Regions from separate parts of the Homo sapiens genome. Here region 2 is linked to region 1. Evidence: fine-mapped expression QTL. Tissue or cell type: whole blood. Region 1 holds a variant in brackets; the other region holds the start of a gene. All regions are shown on one strand. Distances are from middle to middle.

Region 1 (2,753 bases):
TTTTTCAAAGTAAGAACAAGGAGGAATTTGTTTCTAAAAGAACATTAAAACACAGGCTCGTGGTCTAAAAGCAAATGGTTCAGCAGGATGTTCAGGGCCTTAAAGCACAGTCAGCAGGACTCAGCATCTCCCAGCACCTGCTCTCCGGTTGTCATGGTAACATCATCCCCAACCCAACCACCTTGTCCAGCCGAGAGACAGCAATCATAAGGAGGGACCTCGGTTTCCCCCGAGGATCCTGGGCTTCCTTTCTGAAACGCTTGCTTCTGAGCTCAGCAACCAGGAACACCAGGCCAGCCCATCCCCAGCACCTCTGTGGAGATGAGGGACAAAGTCCTACAGTCCCTCTTCCTGTTCTGATGAGAAAGGGAGGGAAGAAAACATACCCCGAGCGCCTGCAATATGGTCATGACACTTTCAAAAAGCCTGTGCTATGGAGTCATGATCAGAAACCAGAGTGTGGAGAGGGTCAGCAGCCTGCCTCAGAGCAGCCAGCTAGGCGGGGAGTGGTAAATTTGGGACTTGTACCCAGGCATGACTGGCTCCGAGCCCAGTGCTCCACTCTATGGAATGTTCCCTGGGCCTCAGTTGCTTTCCTTTCCTTTGCAGGCCGCGGGCTGCTGCCACTCTGGCAGCTGGTGAGTTAGCTGGAGGGCAACATTCCAAAGCAGGGGCAGCATGCTGCTTTCCTCCTGTGCCCACTCCTGCGGGGAAGTCCGTTGACTCCCACCGCTGAAGGGAGCTGGCAACACCAGGATGAGGTCCCAGGGGACGGGAGCAGGTACCCACTGTCTGTCTACCTTCCCACTGGAAAAGCACGGACAGGCCAGCCCTTGCGGGGGCAGGCAGAGGACAGAGTTGGCTTTGCGCGGTCTCTGCCTGCTGAGCAGTTCCAATTCCTCTCATGGGAGAAACAAGGAGGCAGTCGCTTGTGCATGTTCCAGAAGTTTTACTGGGGAGGAGGAAGCGGACAGAGGAAGCTGTGTGTGCATGTGAAGGGGTGGGCAGGGTGGGAGGGATGCACGCGTATGTGAGCATAGCATGTGTGAGTACTACACACATCTCCATGCAGAAGCACAACTGGGCAGCCCTGGCTTCCAGCTCTGGGCTTCAGCACAACAGACACCAGCCTGTGGTCTCTCAGAAGCCAGGGAGACCACATCGGGCTCAGGACGTTTTACCCAAAGTCCAGAGTTTTTATGCCTCTCCCTGGCATTCTCCATAAAGAAGGGAAGGTCAGATGACCCCTTAGATCTGTGTCATCTGGGAATTTCCTTGGGCTGGTTTAGACACGATGCCCTCTTTTTCTCAGGATAGCAGATAACCTGCTTTGAAAGAGGGCTTAATTCTGTGGGTCCTAAATTTTCTCCTTTCTCTCTCTCTTTCTGTGTGTGTGTGTTGGGAAAATGGCAAGTTTCCAATACCAGCTTTGGAGGAACGATTACGTTTTCCCTCCA[AT/T]TTCAAGTCCGAAAGACCAGAGCCCTCATTCCAAAGCCCCCCACCCAGATGGATTTTTTCGTTTCATTTGTCATCCGTCCCATGGGAGGGCCCCATGTCTCCTCAGAACCCATCCTGGAGGCAGCAGGTCGGGTAGAGTGAGTTTGGCCTGCTCATGACCTCCACCCCTGAGATTGTGAACAAGGATGTCTGGGGCGATGCTGAGAATGTTTTTGAAGCTGCTCCCAGATGACGCTGATGATCACACCAGATTGAGTGCTGCGATCGCCTTGAGTCCAACCTCTGCATAAACGAGGTTCTCATAAACAAGTTCACTCTACCCTAAGCTAAGTCTATGTGAGCAAACCCACTTCATCCTTTGTACCTGGAGACCTGGTTACACTAACCTGATACTGACCTGTTCATGTAGCTGGAATGGTGTGTTTCATGCAGTGTGGACCAAGCAATGGCATGGGGTGTGTGTGTGTGTGTGTGTGTGTCTGTGTGTGTGTGTTTGTGTATGCGTTCACACTTGTGTGTGTATATGTGCATGTAGATGCTGCATAAATGATTTTTGATGTCAAAGACAAACACATTCCATTGTTTTAAATATTCTATTATGTAAACAATACGCAGAGGGACCATATCTACTCTTGTCATATTATTTGTGATGGTAAAACATGCATTTGCAATAAATTAAGCTTTCTGGGAAGGCAAGCAGTATTGGAGCCAAACGACTGTCTCGGAACATGTGTGTGTTATCTCGGTTCATATCAAGTCCAAAGCTAATGGAGCCTTCCCCGCCATCCAGGGAGGAACACCAGGACCCCGGAGTTTCTTCTTAGTGCTATATTTTAAAGTTGCATTGACGTTTTCCTCCCCTTCCTTTTGTGCAAGTTGGAAGTAGCAGTGTTCTAAAAGATGGTTTGACGTTTTTGCTGTTGTTTTATGTTTTTAAAAATGTATCTGCTTTGTGTTTGGAAATAAAAATCTCTATTTTGGTCTATGAAATACTGTGTGGTTTGGAAATTCGTTTTCTGAAGTAAAGGAGTTTGTCCAAGAGGTTATGAGAAGAAAGATGACATGTGGCTAAGGCTGACATTGTAAAATTCTGACTTCCAGTTCAACCTCTTTCATGCAGAGGTTGAACTCAGGGCGACAGCAACACTCAATCTCATGTGGATATCAGCCTCATCTGGGAGCATCTTCAAACACATTCTCAGCATCTCTCCAGACCTCCTCGTTCACAGTCTCAGGGGTGGGGGTCATGGGCAGGCCAAGTGGATACTGAGAATTCCAAAATGCACTCTGGGTGC
Region 2 (2,500 bases), 110 kb before region 1:
CTGTAAAATCGCTAGCCGCACCTAAACTGTGATGACTGGAGTTCACATAAAACCTAGTTTTACAACTTGTATCCTTCATTAGTAGCGCTCATCTGATCCAGAGGCGGTGAAGCCAATCATGCAACCATGTAATTACTCGGAAAAAGATAAGGGTTGGGGCCCAGGACTGTTCAAAGCTGGGCTGGATGCACAGGAAGGCCAGTGACTGCTGACCTGGGAGGAGAGCGCCAGGGTGCGAAGGCTTCCAGCCATCAAGCAGTAGGAGTTTGGCAGAAGGCTGTGGAGCAAACGCCGGGCCAAGGCAACTTCATGTGCACAGGCACAGAGGCAGATACAGTTTAGACATTCTGGGACAAGGTTAAAGGGTTGGCGTGGCTGGAGCAGGGGTTGGGAGAGTGGGAGGATGTTTCTGCTGGTGGGGAGGGAGAGGTGAGGCGCATTCTGAGGCCTTGGGTTTGTTGGGGGTTCACATTATGCCTGGGGATTCACATCCCTTGTGACTCCTGGACTGTGGGCCCGGACTGTGGGGGTGGGAGAGGACGGGCAGGGTGCCACTACCCCCCACCCCGCCCTTTCTCCCCGCGCGAGGCTGGCTGATGAGTGTCATTTTCTTCTTGGATTTCGCGCCTACGGGCGGTGTGCCCCTTCCAAGGCCCCCACCTCCGCTCTGTGAGGGCAAGATCTGCCGGTGTCCTAATCCCTTTTCCATGTCTGGGCGCACAGATCCAACTTTCCCGGAGAGGCAGCTCCGCGCCATCCCCTAGGATGAGAAGAGGGTGGGTGGCTGTGTGTGTGTCGGGGAGACAGACAGGGGCCAGGGCTCCGGGCTGCTTTCCAGGCAAGCGTGGACAGGACCCCCCCCTTAACCCCCGCCCCGGGTCCGCGACAGGGAGCGGTGAGGCTTTTCTTCGGCCCTGGTCCCCGGGGCCACGCAGGATGTCCGCCGGGCTGGGGTTGCGCACCCGGGGCCTCCGCTGAGCGCGTGCGGAGAGGGGCGCGGCCTCTCCCGCGGGGCCACCGGGCGGGTCCCGGCGGGGGCGGGGGTACTCGCGGTGTCCGGGCCCGCCCCAGCCCTGCCCCGCCCCGGAGCCGCCCGGGACGCAGGGAGGAGGGAAGGAGGCTCGGCCCCAGCTACCCGCGGCGCCGCGCTCCTCCACGCTCCGGGAGGGTAAGTGGCACGGGGCCGGGAGGCCAGGCCTGGGGCCGGGGGCCGGGGGCCGGGGGCCGGGCGGGTGGGGTCCTCAGCCCCTGGCCCAGCTCTGACACAGCCCCGGGAATCGGGGGCGCCGAAAGTCTGGGGGACCTGGGGAGGCGCGCCCGGCGCGGGGGCGGGGGCCCCGGCGTGACAGCTGCGGGCGGGCGGGTATTTTTAGTTTAAATCCAACCGTTCTGTGCTGGCTGCGAAATTCCCGAGCCTTTCCTTTCAACCCCGGGGAGCTTCGGCCGGCCCACAAGAAAAAGCCCTAAAGCCCCGGGCAGCGCGCCCCAGCGGGCCGGGTGCCTCCTCGGGGCTTCCCTCTGCCTCCCCTAGGGGCGGGCTGACCTGTCACCAAGGCTTGCGCGCGGCGGGGGCCCAATCCGCTCCTGGCGACCGCGAGCGCGCTCAGTAGTGCCTGGGAGAGCAGAGCAGGCGGCGAAGAGGGGAAGTCCAACCCCGAATGCTCAGTTTCGTTCAGACGCCTTTTGGCTATGCAAACTTGGCAAGCAGCTCAACCTCTCTGAGCCTCATTCCCACATTTCTAAAGGGGAGGGCAGTGAGGCCAGAGATGGCTTGCAGGGCCTGAGAGAGCCTCAGATGGATGTTGACTTCCCCTGGGGTCTTGGGATCTTGACCCCAAACAGCAGACCCATTGATGTGGCCCATTGGTCAACCCGGGAGCAGTGTCCTACACCGCCCAGCTGACCTCTGCTTCAAAACTGGAAGCCAGGGGCCTCCAGCCTGGGCGGGGTGATAATGAATATTTTCAGTTAACCACTTTGGCCCTGAAGCTCCAACCCTGGGCTTTCCTGGGACTCTCCCAGGTTCCTGGTCACCCCTTTCAACTCTGAAGGGTCACCCTTATCCCTGCACTGGGTGGGGGGGCTTTCTACAGCCAAGGGCTGCTAGTGGGATAGCTTGATGTGTCTTGGGGGCATGCCCCATCCCACATGAATGAGGGCATGAGGAGAATGGACCGTCCTCCCAGAAAGGAGAGCATGTCATAAAATCACTGCCATTCTGAGCTTGGCAGGACAGCGTCCTTCATCCACCAAGAGAAGCAGAAACAGGCCCAGAGAGGGGGAGTGATTTGCCCAGAGCCACACTGCCTGGCTCTCTTGAAGGGCCTGGGCTTGCCGCCTGCACTTCCAGGGCAGCCAACAGCCCATAGGAGTCAGGAGCTGGGAGGTGGGAGGGGCATATCAGTGCCAACGAGCTGTTTTGCTCAGTTTCCTGTCACTGTGCCCCAGCGGGATGCTCCAGCACATGTGGGTCTGCACATTCCTCAGGCCGGACGGTGCT

What was found. PIP is the estimated chance that this variant, and not a neighbour inherited with it, causes the effect.
Region 2: it holds the start of SYNE3, and the variant in region 1 is fine-mapped to the expression of SYNE3 in whole blood (INTERVAL, PIP 0.98).

Annotation. Positions count from the first base shown.
Region 1 is chr14:95,406,961-95,409,713 of GRCh38, reverse strand. It overlaps SYNE3 (spectrin repeat containing nuclear envelope family member 3), which reads left to right. Exons shown (of 18, transcript NM_152592.6): 18 at 1-2,448. Among named protein-coding and RNA genes, the nearest start is that of LINC02292, 79 kb to the right of the region's middle. The variant AT/T (reference allele first, on the strand shown) is at 1,458.
Region 2 is chr14:95,515,264-95,517,763 of GRCh38, reverse strand. SYNE3 (spectrin repeat containing nuclear envelope family member 3) reads left to right here and starts at 1,114. Exons shown (of 18, transcript NM_152592.6): 1 at 1,114-1,168. It overlaps SYNE3-AS1 (SYNE3 antisense RNA 1), which reads right to left and starts at 1,644. Exons shown (of 2, transcript NR_188030.1): 1 at 1,544-1,644; 2 at 1-760. RefSeq lists silencers at 859-1,668, 1,418-1,712.